Linked DNA regions of Homo sapiens. The protein of the gene in region 2 purifies or fractionates together with the protein of the main gene of each other region. This does not show direct contact. Each region holds a gene or a part of one and is shown on either strand. Other genes may lie near its edges.

Region 1 (3,663 bases), on a different chromosome or scaffold from region 2:
ACTCACCTTAGTGTAACAAGCTCTCCTCTAAGTTTTAAGTCTTGAGATGGGATTTTATTGTGAATGCTTGACCCAAGTTCCTTTTGTTCTCAGGCCCTTATTATTTAAGGCATGGAGAATATCTGAATATTTTATCTAAGCCAGTGTTGCTGTATTCCTCTCCAGCTAAGTAATTTGAATTGTCAGCGGTTGTCAGATTATACTAGTTTGTTTTGTCTAATTTTTGACACCTCACCCCTTAATGAAGAATGACTCAGTAAACAGAAAAATACCAACAAAGAGAGAGAGAGGAAAAAAAAAAACAACTAATACCTAAAATCTATTTAACTATTCCCCAGGTAATCATGAGTTTTCTGTACTTACATACCCCTTCTCTGCTTATGTCCCTTGTTTACAGAAGCACTTCGGTTAGTGACTCTCCTGAGAACAAGGTATTTCTGTGCAATGACAGAGCTTCCTAACTTGATAAATTCAGGCCAGATATCTCAGACTGCAATAATGATGATAATAATAATAATTGCAGTTAATATTTAAACAGTATTTACTATGTGCCATGTACTGTCTTAAGTATTTTACTTGTATTAACTCATTTGATTTTCATGGTAACCCAGTGAGATAGATGGGTTATTTATTTTAGGGATGAGGAAACTGAGGCATAGAGAAGTTATTTACCCAGTGTCACACAGCTAGTAAATGCCAAAACTAGGGTTTAAATCCAGGCAGTTCGACTCCAGACTGGTCTGTATTGCTTCTTTTTCATGGGAGAGTTAACATGATTCTAGTTAGTGTTGAAGTCTACAGTTTCTCTATTACTGTGTCCTTAGCTCTTTAACTTTTACCTCTTATGACCTTTCACCACTTGATCTGATGCTCTCCTGCTTTTTAAATTCTTCCTCCTTGGACACATGGTAATGTCTGATAGATTGCATAGTTAGGTTTATTTCTTAGACCATTCAGTAAATATTTATTAAGACATTGGAAATTATACAAATTGATTTAAATTCACCTCTGCTGACCGTGATGTGAAAGACACATTAGGTCTCAATAAACTGTTGAGTCTCTCTTGCATCTCCTAAAGATGCATCACCAGGCCCCACTTGGCAGGGTGATTAACTGAAATTCAGTTAAACTCAATATAATGGTAGCCAGCCTTTTGCATTTTTGTCATTTTTTTCTTTGTGGAATGAAATGTTTTCTCCCCTTGTTTAAAGGAATTTCAGGCATCAGCAGTGAAGCCAGAGATGTGAATGCAAGGGGGACTCCATGCATAAGGGCATAAGGGAGGAGCAAGTGCGCCTACTTGAATCAAGAGAAACAATATTTAGTTTTTTGAGGGTACTTAAGGGCCTAGTAGTTAGAAGGGAGACTATACTCTTGAAGGCACTACGTTAGCCGGGCACGGTGGCTCACGCCTGTAATCCCAGCACTTTGGGAGGCTGAGGTGGGCAGATCACGAGGTCAGGAGTTCGAGACCAGCCTGGCCAATATGGTGAAACCCCATCTCTACTATAAATACAAAAATTAGCCGGGCGTGGTGGTGTGTGCCTGTAATCCCAGCTACTCAGGAGGCTGAGGCAGGAGAATCGCTTGAACCCAGGAGGCGGAGGTTGCAGTGAGCCGAGATCACGCCACTGTACTCTAGCCGGGGCAACAGAGTGAGATGCTGTCTCAAAAAAAAAAAAAAAAAAAAAAAAAAGAAGGCACTACTTTGTTATTTATCCCAGTCAGTCCCTGCTGAAGCTTCTGGAAGGCTTGGAGCTGCTGAAGCCAGAGAAACCTGTGATACTGGCTGGATTTTAACAGTCTCTAGACCCACTCTCATTAGATGCCCAGGTCTGCTAGCAACCCCCTCCTTCCAGGTCTCCCTCACTTCCTATGTGAACATTCCTGCTCTTTCCTTGCTTCTAAGATTTTCTGATTTTTTTTAAGGTTTCCTTCTTTCTTTTCTTTTCTTTTCTTTTTTTTTTTTTGAGACAAAGTCTCATTCTGTTGCCCAGGCTGGAATGCAATGGCACAATCGGCTCACTGCAACCTCCACCTCTCAGGTTCAAGCGACCCTCTCACCTCAGCCTCCTGAGTAGCTGGGACTACAGGCGCCTGCTACCACGCCCGGCTAATTTATTGTATTTTTAGTAGAGACGGGGTTTCACCGTGTTAGCCAGGATGGTCTCAATCTCCTGACTTTGTGATCCGCCCACCTCGGCCTCCCAAAGTGCTGGGATTACAGGCGTGAGCCACTGCACCCGGCCTATTTTCTTTCTCATTCCCCTCCCCAGCTCTCCCCCTCTTTTTGTTTAAGACAAGGTCTCGCTCTGTCGCCCAGGTTGAAGTGCAGTGGCATGATCTCAGCTCACTGCAATCGCCATCTCACAGGTTCAAGTGACCCTCTCACCTCAGCCTCCTGAGTAGCTAGGATTACAGGAGCCACTACCACACCCAGCTAATTTTTGTATTTTTTGTAGATACGGGGTTTCACCATGTTGCCTAGGGTGGTCTTGGAACTCCTGACCTCAGGTGATCCACCCTCCTTGGCCTCCCAAAGTGCTGGGATTACAGGTGTGAGCCACTATGCCCGGCCCCTCCTCCCCATACTTCTTTAGACTGCTCAGATATGAAATAACTTCAGAAACCTACCCAAATATTATGATCCTGCATGTTTGCTATTTCACAATCAATGACATTTTGAGGCCACATTGACTATAAATAATCACATCTGTCTTTGGAAAAGCCACATTTTGTTTCACACTAATTTTTTTTTTTGTCCTTGCAAAGTTGGCTTTCTGGATGGAGAGAATGATGTGTCTGGCAATAGGGATCTGTACATTTCCTATTTCAAGAGCACACAAAGTACTGACATCTGAAATGAAAACACAAAAGGAAAAGCTTAAACTTGCCACATAGGAAGTTCTTCATGCTTGAATAGTGTCTTCATAACCATAATGGGATTTTTTAGGATTATAATAGTTCTTTTTAAATGCTTTATTTACTTAACAAATAGTAATCAAATCATTGCAAATTCTTATATGGAAGATTTAGGCGCTGGCAGCAATAGTTACATAAATTATAATGTCAACTATGACAAACCTTCTATGTGTCTAGAGCTAGAATATAAAATAGAAGTGTGCCATCATGGCTACAAATGGTTAAGAATATAGATTCTAGGCCGGGCACGGTGGCTCACTCCGTAATCCCAGCACTTTGGGAGGCCAAGGAGGGTGGATCACCTGAGGTCAGGAGTTCCAAGACCAGCCTGAGCAACATGGTGAAACCGTGTCTCTACTACAAATACAAAATTAGGCCAGGTGTGGTGGCTCACGCCTCTAATCCCAGCACTTTGGGAAGCCGAGGCAGGCGGATCACCTGAGGTCAGGAGTTCGAGACCAGCCTGACCAACATGGTGAAACCCCGTCTCTACTAAAAATACAAAACTAGCCGGGCATGGTGGTGCATCCCTGTAATCCCAGCTACTCAGGAGGCTGAGGCAGGAGAATCGCTTGAACCAGGGAGGCAGAGGTTGCAGTGAGCTGAGATCGCGCCATTGCACTCCAGCCTGGGCAACAAGGATGAAACTCCATTTCAAAAAAATAGATAGATAGATTGATTGATTCTAGAGTCAGAATGCCTGTGTTTGAGTCCTGGTTCCACCAGTCATCAGCCAGGTAG
Region 2 (3,663 bases):
GTAATCCCAGCACTTTGGGAGGCCGAGGCAGGTGGATCACCTGAGGTGAGGAGTTTGAGACCAGTCTGCCCAACACGGTGAAACCCCGTCTCTACTAAAAATACAAAAAATAGCTGGGTGCCATTGGCAGGCGCCTATAATCCCAGCTACTCAGGAGACAGGCAGGGGAATCGCTTGTGCCGGGGAGGTGGAGGTTGCAGTGAGCTGAGATGGCGCCTCTGCACCCCAGCACTGGCAACAGAGCGAGACTCCATCTCAAAAAAAAAAAAAACAAAAAAAACAAAAAAAAAAACAAAACCAGAAAAATCCTAAAACCAGAAGGAACCATAGTGACCTTCTAAGTTATTTCACAAATGAGAAGCAATCTGAAGCTGGGTGCAGTGGCTCACGCCTGTAACCCTAGCACTTTAACACTTTAGGAGGCTGAGGCGAGTGGATCACTTGAGCCCAGGAGATGGAGACCAGCCTGGGCAACATCGCAAACCTCGTCTCTTAAAAAAATACAAAAATTAGACAGTTGTGGTGGAATGCATCTGTAGTCCCAGCTGCTTGGGAAGCTGAGGTGGGAGAATCGCTTGAGTCTGGGAGATTGAGGGTGCAGTGAGCGGAGGTCGCACCACTGCTCTCCAGTATGGGCAACAGAGTGAGACCCTGTCTCAAAAAAAATAAATAAATAAATAAATGAGAGAGAAGCAATCTCAGATTAAATGATATTCTTAACGTTGTATAGTGAGGTGATACTGTTTTACACAAGGCAAATAAGAGTCATAGCTGAAGCTTGAAGAAAACTCTTGAATGAAATACAGAAAATGAGAAAGCAAAGACTCACCATTGGTGTAAAGCCTACAGGTGAGAGCAGGATGCTGTGGGCAGGTGGACTACAATCACACACAGAAAAAGGAAACATTGACATGTGGCGGGTGAGCCAAAGTAATGCAGTGTCATTGGAGCTATGAGAATTAAAATTTTCAAGAAATGAATACTTTCTAGGTAAGAAGAATGAGGACTGCTAAAATGCCATTTAATTTTCCAAGGAGGCAGTCTGTAACTCACAAAATTATGGTTTCATTAGTCTTGGAAATACGGACTAGAGTACCAGGTCTTAATTTGAGATTGTGTTTTTCTTGGATCCTTGTTTATGTCTATTTTGTAACAGTCACAGTATATGCACTATGAATTTTTCTAGAACTGTACTGTGTAGTATGGTAGCAACTAGCCGTAAGTGGTTATTAAAATAGAAATTTAAAACTTGGTTCTTCATTTGCACTAGCCACATTTCAAGTGCTCAGTAGCCACATATGTCATTTTGGACAGCACCTTGGACCAACCTCCTCTCTGTCATACTGGACAGCACAGATAATAGAACTCTCTCATCACTGCAGGAAGTTAGGTTAGACAGTACGTTAGACTCCCCTGAGATTGGTCTTAGAAGGGAAGGGGAGGTAGTAGGATGGTTTCTTTAGGGGAGGTGAGAAGATGAACCATAGAGGACCACTGAACCAGTTTTGAGAGTACGGGAGTGACAGCAGTGCTGGGGCTGAGGAGTTCCCAGGTTCCAGTTCCTTTTACAGTGGCTATATTTGGGAGCTGGATGGTTAACGTTACTTCATGTTAGAACATCAAGTATGACTTTAAGTGGTGTGGTTATATACATGTTTCTTGTTCTTTCCAGTTCCTCTGTAAAATATCCCAGGTGCGCTTGGGAAAAATGTATGGTCAATGTGGTAATTCACACAAAGGAATATTATTTTGAATTCCTGAAGCAGCCAGCAATATCAAATGCAGTGTGACTAATTTTAGAATCAAACTAGTAGTAAAAATGTAAAGCATTTCCTTATTCACTTTTAACTTTCTTCTTTGCTCTTCACAATTTCTAAATTTTTATTGTTTGAAGGAAGTCTTAAACCTTGGATTTAAACTGGTTTAACTGATTTCTTATTTAAAAACTGGGTAATAGATTTTCCCATTAAAAACAGGTTTTTGGCTAGGCGCGGTGGCTCATGCCTGTAATCCCAGCACTTTGTGAGGTCAAGATGGGTGGATCACCTGAGATCAGGAGTTTGAGACCAACCTGACCAACATGGCGAAACCCCGTCTCTACTAAAAATACAAAAAATTAGCTGGCTGTGGTGGCACGCGCCTGTAATCCCAGCTTCAGCTACTCGGGAGGCTGAGGCAGGGGAATTGCTTATCCCGGGAGGCAGAAGTTGCAGTGAGCCGAGATCACGTCACTGCACTCCAGCCTGGGCAGCAGAGTGAGACTCGCTCTCAAAACAAAAACAAAAAACAAAAGAACAGGCCGGGTGCAGTGGCTCATGCCTGTAATCCCAGCACTTTGGGAGGCCGAGGCAGGTGGATCATGAGGTCAGGAGTTCAAGACGAGCCTGGCCATGATGGTGAAACCCTGTCTCTACTAAAACTACAAAAAAAAAAAAAATTAGCCAGGCGTGCTGGCAGGTGTTTGTAATCCCAGCTACTCGGGAGGCTGAGGCAGGAGAATTGCTTGAACCCCGGTGGTGGAGGTTGCAATGAGCCAAGATCACGCTGATCGCACCACTATACTCCACTCCAGCCTAGGCGACAGAGTGAGACTGTCTCAAAAAAAAAAACCCCACAGTTTTTTAAAAATGATTTTCATATCATAGAGAGTGGGAAGGTAAGCCACAGTCTTCTTAAGATTTCCAATAAATGCAACAGATTAGATCCAGAATATTTAAGAATGTCTATACACAAGTAAGAAAAAGACAACCCAGGAGAAAACTGAGAAAACACTTGAACTAGTACTTTACTAAAGAGGAATTCCAAGTGGCCAATAAATGTTTGAAAAGGTGCTGAACCTCATCAGTAATCAAGAGATTGAAAAATAAAACCACAGTGGGTACTACTTTACAAGTTGATGATTCCAAGTACTGGAAAGAACGTGGAGCAGTGGAGACACTCATACGATGCTGTGGGAGCTTGTGGGAGTGTGAATTGGTGCCTCAACTTTGAAAATGCTCTGGAACGATCCAGGAAGGTTTAAAATACACATATTCTGTGACTCAGAAATTCCACTCTTGAGATAAATCTCTCAGAGAAAGTTGTGTGTATGTATACCAGGATATATAGTATGATAAGACTGTCCATAGCATTATTCATATTTGACAAAATAGAAACAACTTAAGTGATGATCACCAGTAGAATGGATAAATCAATTGTGTGAAAATGAGCTGGCCAAGTGCGGTGGCTCACACCTATAATCCCAGCACTTTGGGAGTTTAAGGTGGGTGGATCACAAGGTCAGGAGTTCGAGACCAGCCTGACCAACATGGTGAAACCCCGTCTCTACTAAAAATACAAAAAATTAGCCGGGTGTGGTGGCGGGCGCCTGTAATTTTAGCTACTCAGGAGGCTGAGGCAGGAGAATCGCTTGAACTTGGGAGGCAGAGGTTGCAGTGAGCTGAGATCACACCACAGCACTCCAGCCTGGGCAACAGAGTGAGACTCCATCTCAAAAAAAAAAACAAGAAAATGGATGAGCTATAACTATATGCAGTTGCAGGAATGAACCTTAGAAACATAATGTCGAGAAAGTGAAGTGTGAAGCATAATATATACGGTGCAAATATATTTAGTAAAGTTCAAAAACAAAAAATATAAGTGCTAAAAGTACAAAGAAAAGGA
Region 3 (3,663 bases), on a different chromosome or scaffold from region 2:
ATGGCCTAGAGGAGGCAACAGGGGACAGTGTGTGGCTAAGCCCCACGCTAACAGGTAGCCTCCACAGGAAATCACAGCCAATAGCTGACCATTTGTAATTGAGTGTCTATCATGTACGTGCAAAGCAGTTTCAAGATATTACTTCTAGTAGTTGTGACAACTACAAAGTGGAGGAGAAATCATCCCCATTTTGTAAGTGAAAAAAGTGGTAAATTTGAGATTCAAACTCAAGTTCTCCTGACTCCAAAGTTTGTTCTCAAATAGATCTCAATTCTTTCTAGAGCCACATACAAAAGAGGAGTCTCAGTGACGTGGAGTAACTAGCAAGAGGCAGCATAGCACAGTGGTAAAGAAGGTGGGCAGTGCCTCCAGATTATCCCGGGTTTAGATCCTGACCCAGCTACTTACTAGCTGTGGGACCTTAGCTATATTACTTAATCTAATCGTAACTCAGTTTCTTCATCTGTAAAATTAGCTGTTATGAAGATAACTTATTTTATTTTTACCTAATAAAAATCTACATGCTACTTAGCATGTGCCAGGCACTGTTCTAAACACTGAACAATGATACAATTCATGAGGAATCAATGAGCTCCAACATGAACACTGGCTTCAGGTATTTTTAAAGTAGAAATTGTAGACTTTTTTTTTTTTTTTTTTTTACTTTTTGTTTTTTTCTGAGACAGGGTCTCACTGTGTCACCCAGGGTGGAGTGCAGTGGTACAATCTCAGCTCACTGCAGCTTCGACCTCCCAAGCTCATGTGATCCTCCCACCTCAGCCTCCCAAGTAGCTGGGACTACAGATGCACACCACCATGGCCGGCTAATTTTTGTATTTTTTGTAGAGGCAGTGTTTCACCATTTTGCTCAGGCTAGTCTCAAACTCCTGCCCTTAAGCAATCTGCCTGCCTTGGCCACCCAAAGTGCTGGGACTACAGGCACGAGCTACCACTACCAGCCTGACATTTATTTCTTTCACTCATTTAACTCATTTATTAATACTATGTGCAGGACACAGCACATTTTTAGGTTCAAATCACAGCACTGAAAAAGCCAAACAAAGTCTCTACTTTCATAGAGCTTATGTTCTAGGAGCATGAGAAATAAATAAGCAAGCAAACAAACAAATATGCAATCATAAGCATACATTATGAATATGCATGTAACTGAACCACAGAGGTATTCCGCTTGGCTCTCCAATGCAGAGGCTAATTTTACCACCGCATCCCTTAGGGTCAGTGATGTGCTAGTCAATGTTTAGCAACAAGTTCTTGGGTGAGGGGAGGGGAGTCTGCTTTGTAGCATGGGCTGATTTCTGTGGTGTAATTACTTCCATCATGGTCAATTTCAAGTTCTGAATATGACATCACTGAATGAAGAATTGGGAGGAGAAGCTCAGTTGCACAGCATTTTATACAGTATTTCCACCATATAGCCACAATAGATGTAACTAACCTCAAGAGAATAGATAATAGTGAAACATAGCAAAATAATTAGGAAGAGTTTTGAGTATTTATTATCTTGGCTCTTCATATAATGTGTTTAATTGTAAGTTTATATGATTTAGTTTTTATAATGGCTGTGTTTTACAACTGGCTCTCAAAATTCTCGAAAGTTTAACAATGAGCTTTTGGGAGCCAGTATGAGTTTGGGGTGCAGAGAAAGTGGGGACAGTGTTAGAGATGAAGGAGACTGAGTCCAGATGGTGCCATTGTACAGAGGTGGATTCTAATCTAATTCCTTTTTAGCTCCTCTTCTCCAACAAGCTCTGCTTCTATGTACACACGGAAGCACCTGCCCTCTAAACCGAAGAGCATGGGTACAAATATAGTAACAATTTTGACATTCTTACTAGATCAGGTCACTCTTGCAGAGAAACTTTTGGCTCTCCAATCTTTAGTGAATATAATCCATGTACTCAGTGCTCTGAATATGGTAGATTCTTCTGTGCAATACAGAGGATGTAATTCCTAACTGCCGAATAAAGGAAGAACCTAGAGATAAATTTTCTGTCCTTCTGCAAAAGCAAATTATCCCCCATCCATGCACTCAAAGTCTCCTGTCTCTTAGGGTCCACATACTTTCAAAAGGGCCACCCAGGGAAGCATCTAAACCAGGGGCTGTGATGACTCCTGCCCTAGAGAAGATGTAGGGGTGAGGGTGGAGGTGGAGGAAGCTTCTCCCCTCTTCAGGATTTGTGCATCCTCACCACAAAGTGGAAACAGAGAAAAACATCTTCAGCTTTTCCTAGGAAGCGAAATATCTGCTCAAAACCTCCTAAGAACAGAAATACTTAAAATTTTTTTTCTCCTAGATTCACCCCTCCCCCTAAGCCTAAATTTCCCTTAGTAATGATGGCTGGAAAAGGAAGTGGGAAATACCATGAGAAATTTTATTCTTGCCACATTTCCAGTCCTTTACAAAAGCAAACACTGGAAATCTCATCAGAAAAATTTGACCTTACAGGGTTGATAACTTTGTGCTTAAACTGAAAAAAAAGCAAAACTAAAGGTTTTGCTCTTCTGGCCAAACGGATTATTTGGCATATGCAACTATAATTTTTAGAAAGAAATTATTCAAAACTAAAGAAATAGGCTTCTGAGGAATAAGTAACTACATACATCTACTATCAATTATTTTAACGATAGGTGCACAGAACTGTTTCTGAGCCAGGATGTTTTATCAGAGTCACCAGGGAACTTTTACAAACTACAGATGCCTGGACCCCCTTCTAGACCTACCGAATCAGAATCTCTAGAGGATAGGTCTCAGGGATGTGTATTTTCAAAAAGCTCTACAGTTGATTCTGATTAAGATACTGGTTAAGATGCATGGGTATATAGGCAGATTGGGCAGCATTGTATAACCTAAATTTGCTAACTGTTAAAACATGCTCTCTTACTATCAGGGGAAGTAATGTGGTATATTGAAAAGGTTAACTGCTTGGAACTTAGGAGCTGTGTGTTTTGGAACTATCTTACCACTAATTAACTGGATGACTTTGGTCAAGTCACTTGGTTTGTTATTTCATTCAACAAATATTTATTGAGATTCTGCCGTGTGCCACGCACTGGGTATATACGAATGAAAAAAAAATAGAGGTTCCTGTCCTTATATATCTGACAGACCAATAAGACAGGGCAGACATTAATCGAAGAAACCTACAAATACATACATAATTTTACTTGGTGTGGCTAGGCTTTGGAGAATAAAAAATAGATCACTGGTTCATATTTTAAAAAGAATTTCTACTTAAGATCCCAAATTTCCTGTCCCAACCTTCCCACACATAATATAATTATATGTTTTAAGTCCACTCATTAATAAAACACAAAAACACAAACTTAAAAGCTACTATGAATTCAATAACTCTTTTAAATAAATTAGCATTTTATCATTATAATGTATGTATAGAATTAGAAAAATAGTAGCACATATGATGTAAGATATATTATTTACTCAGAGTAGCTTGCCAAAAGCACTTGCTGCATATACAGATTTGTTTACCTCTTGCAATGACTTTGTGGCCTCCCAGGGATCCACCACCCAGAGGTTAAAAACCTACAGACCACATTAATGAAGACTAAAACATGGTACTTGAGTAGATATGGCCCTTCTCTTCCACAACAGATATCACTATCAGTGACCACATTTTCCCCTCC
Region 4 (3,663 bases), on a different chromosome or scaffold from region 2:
AGTAGCTGGGATTACAGGCACCCACCACCACACTCGGCTAATTTTTGTATTTTGAGTAGAAATGGGGTTTCACCATGTTGGAAAGGCTGGTCTTGAACTCCTGGCCTCAAGTGATTCACCCTCCTCATGGTGAATCACCCCACAATTCACCCCAAAGTGCTGGGATCATAGGCGTGAGCCACCGCACCCAGCCTACTGAAACTTTTTAATGTTGACTTAACTGCATAAAAGGTAATCCAAGGCTCCATGAGGAAATGAAACAGAAAAAGTTAGCAGACACATTGCTTAGACTACGCCAACCCCCCAAAATAGGATGCTAATAACAGACATAAAAACAGATATACCAATTATGTTATAGATACCTCTCATTTATCCAGAATCCTAACCACATTCAAATCAGTTAAAATAGTCTGTAACAGTGCAGAATGGTGATTAATTGCCTAATAATTACTTTGAGGTAATACAAAATCCAGAAACTCACAATTTAATCTTTTAAAATTAAAAGCACTTTCATATGCAATGTATTCTCATCCTCTATAAATTATAAAGTGATCTATGGAAAACTAAAAATTGTTAACCAGAATAATAAACAGAGAATTTCCTCTAATTCCAGATGGCTAGGAGTTTGTTCATGCATTTTTCTGTATACTATCATATACAGAATGACTTTTTTCAAGATACCATACAAACCAAGCTCTAAATAGCTTCCTGTTTACTAAGAAAAAATTAGAGCCCCATCTAAAACTCACGATAGCAATGATTAACAATTTACAAAGAAGAAGATAAACAATCATCTGCTAATTTGTGACTATATTTTCACACATTTTCATAATTAACTAATTTCTAAGGGTGAGCTACATTCGTATTTTTTTAAAAAAAATTGAATCTGTAATAACTGTACATATCTATATGGCTTATGAAACAATTAATACACATCCTATACCTATCTCATTTTATCCTTAAGGTAAGTCTTTAGACTTATACTGTAAGTGTCATAGTATTGTCTAAAGTAATCTAAACCACGCTTTACATTGCTTTTATATAGGAGGATACGGTATCATTTTGGCAATTTTAGTGTATTTCATTTTAAGGCCATTGTTCTTTTTTCTTTTTTTTGGGATGGAATATTGCTCTGTCGCCCAGGCTGGAGTGCAGTGGCACGATCTCAGCTCACTGCAACCTCTGCCTCCCTGGCTCAAGCGATTCTTGTGCCTCAGCCTCCTGAATAGCTAGGATTACAGGTGCCCCTCCACCATGCCCAGCTAATTTTTGTGTTTTTAGTTTCACCATGTTGGCCAGGCTGATCTCAAACTCCTGACCTCAAGTGATCCACCCGCCTTGCCTTCCCAAAGTGTTGGGGTTGCAGGCGTGAGCCACCATGCTCCGGCTGGCCATTATTCTTTACAGCTTGTCTTCTCTGTTTCTGTCTGGTGGAAACATGGCCACAGCAAGTGCTAAATGTTTGACCAGGAGCATGGCGCTCAGGCTGCAAGACTGCAGAAATGCAGCCAGCCACTTCTGGGCAGAGGCTCTGCCCTGCCAATCAATCCCGACCCACTGGCCTGGCACAGATTCACAGGGTTTTCTTGAGTGTGGGACATATTTCTGATACCAAAAAAAAAAAAAAGAAAAGAAACTCTTAACTAAATGTGACCTTTAGCAATCTTCTAGCTTTCTTCCAATAGTTGGGATGTTAGATTCTCAAAAGTTGGTGCCAGGCTGGGCATGGTGGCTCATGACTGTAATCCCAGCACTTTGGAAGATGAAAGCAGGATTGCTTGACACCAGGAGTTTGAGACCAGCCTGGGCAACAAAGGGAGACCCCGTCTCTGCAAAAAATTAAAAAAATTAGCTGGGCATGGTGGTGTGCTCCTGTAGTCCCAGCTACTTGGAAGGCTGAAATGGAAGGATTGCCTCAGCCCAGGCGCTTGAGGCTGCAGTGAGCCGTGATTGTGCCACTGCACTCCAGCCCAGCAATACAGTGAGACCCTGTCTCTTAAAAAAAATTAATTAATTAATTAAAAAATAAATTTTAAAAGTTGATGTCAGACACAAAAACAGATTACATTTGAGTAGGGATGTTTTTGTCTTTTTTGTATATGCTTAAAATTATACTAGATCTCAGCATTTGGGGTCAGGCAAGTATTTGATAAATGACAGTTTGTTTTGCAGCTGGGGGCTGGGATAAGGTAGGAAAATAATGACGGTACATATAACAACAGAAGCACGTGGAAGTGGCAGAATTCCTTTCAACCTTGACACATGGAGGAAGAAAGAAGCAGGAATCGTGAGGTTTTTGGGACAGTTTTGCATAGACTCCTTTCACCTGGAGTGAGGACTTGAGGTATTTGGATGCTGTGACTTTAAGCTGGCAGATTCCGCTTCCTCTCCTGCCTTCCCCTTTTCTCTAAGAGATTATCATCTCACTACAGTACAAGCTTCTCTATAATAGAATGACGCATTGCTAGTACTCTCTACTGATTTTATAAATAAACTGCTTAACAATTTTGTTCAGAACACTTGTAATTCTTTGCATTCACAGAAGAAAAAAAATATGTTCTGATCTGAATGGTGAATTTCCTTAGTGCCATGAATATTCAACTAATTTAATACCTCAAAAATTCTCTAAAGAAAATCAGTAAAAATCCCCTTGAAAATATCAATAAAAAACAATTTACAAATAGAGACAATGACCACATGCTGTTTTTTCTTGTTTTTTTCTTTTGAGAAAGGGTCGTGCTCTCTCATCCAGGCTCGAGTGCAGGGCATGACCACGACTCTGTGCAGCCTCAATGTCCTGGGCTCAAGTGATCCTCCCAACTCAGCCTCCAGAATAGCTACAATGACAAGCATGCACTACCATGCCTGGATAATTTCTTTTTCTTTTTCTTTTGTAGAGACGGGGTCTTGCTATGTTGCCCAGGCTGGTCTCAAACTCCTGGGCTCAAGCAATCCTCTAGTCTCGACTTCCCCAAATGCTAGGATTACAGCTGTGAGCCACACCACACCTGGCCGACATGCAGTTTTTAATAAAACATCTTAAAATGCTAAGTGCTAACTGCCATCAATAGGATACTGTCACATAATATTTTTAAAGGCGTAATTATAAATACTATAAAATCACAGTCTACTATTTCAGAAAATCAGAGTCTACTTACTATTTGTATGTCTCAGAACGGATATACTCAAAAACATGGGACACGCCAAGCTGGAACTGGTCTGCAATGGGGGTCACCCAGGGATTGTTCTCTGCTTTGAATACCTGCTTCTGGCCAGTTAAATCCAAGTTTCCTGGGGGGGGGGAAAAAAAAAGTGAAGGTCACTTCATCCAATACAGATCAGGTCTAAGAAGTCCTTCTCAGTAATCACAGCCTAAGTACCCTAAATCAAACCCTAAGTGCCTCTTGGATCATTTGATGTCTTTTAAATTTCTTAACCCAAGTCATCACAGGTACACAGTCATGACAGTACCTTGGCCCCAGAAATTAAGAACAAAGGAAGGAAGAAAGAAGACAGATGGAAAAGGAAAGCAGAGCAGAGGGAAGGAGGTATTTGCTGCAGAGACAAAAATGACTTGTTCAAAATTAAGAGAAGTGATAATATGAAAACCATTTAAAATTCTATCTTGACCATGTCAGTATGCATCATGCCTTGTCCTGGCTG

What was found. The genes of interacting proteins can lie anywhere in the genome.
Region 1: the proteins of LRCH3 (region 2) and CRLF3 purify together in Homo sapiens (affinity purification with mass spectrometry; one large-scale study listed by BioGRID and IntAct). This does not show direct contact.
Region 3: the proteins of LRCH3 (region 2) and CALD1 purify together in Homo sapiens (affinity purification with mass spectrometry; one large-scale study listed by BioGRID and IntAct). This does not show direct contact.
Region 4: the proteins of LRCH3 (region 2) and RSU1 purify together in Homo sapiens (affinity purification with mass spectrometry; one large-scale study listed by BioGRID and IntAct). This does not show direct contact.

What each region holds. Positions count from the first base shown.
Region 1 is NC_000017.11:30,786,633-30,790,295, reverse strand, and holds part of CRLF3 (cytokine receptor-like factor 3), read left to right. Parts: intron 1-2,634; exon of another isoform or gene 2,635-2,857; intron 2,858-3,663. UniProt on the Homo sapiens protein: May play a role in the negative regulation of cell cycle progression.
Region 2 is NC_000003.12:197,797,603-197,801,265, forward strand, and holds part of LRCH3 (DISP complex protein LRCH3), read left to right. Parts: intron 1-3,663. UniProt on the Homo sapiens protein: As part of the DISP complex, may regulate the association of septins with actin and thereby regulate the actin cytoskeleton.
Region 3 is NC_000007.14:134,786,031-134,789,693, reverse strand, and holds part of CALD1 (caldesmon), read right to left. Parts: intron 1-3,663. UniProt on the Homo sapiens protein: Actin- and myosin-binding protein implicated in the regulation of actomyosin interactions in smooth muscle and nonmuscle cells (could act as a bridge between myosin and actin filaments).
Region 4 is NC_000010.11:16,691,865-16,695,527, forward strand, and holds part of RSU1 (ras suppressor protein 1), read right to left. Parts: intron 3,292-3,663; coding exon 3,159-3,291; intron 1-3,158. UniProt on the Homo sapiens protein: Potentially plays a role in the Ras signal transduction pathway. Capable of suppressing v-Ras transformation in vitro.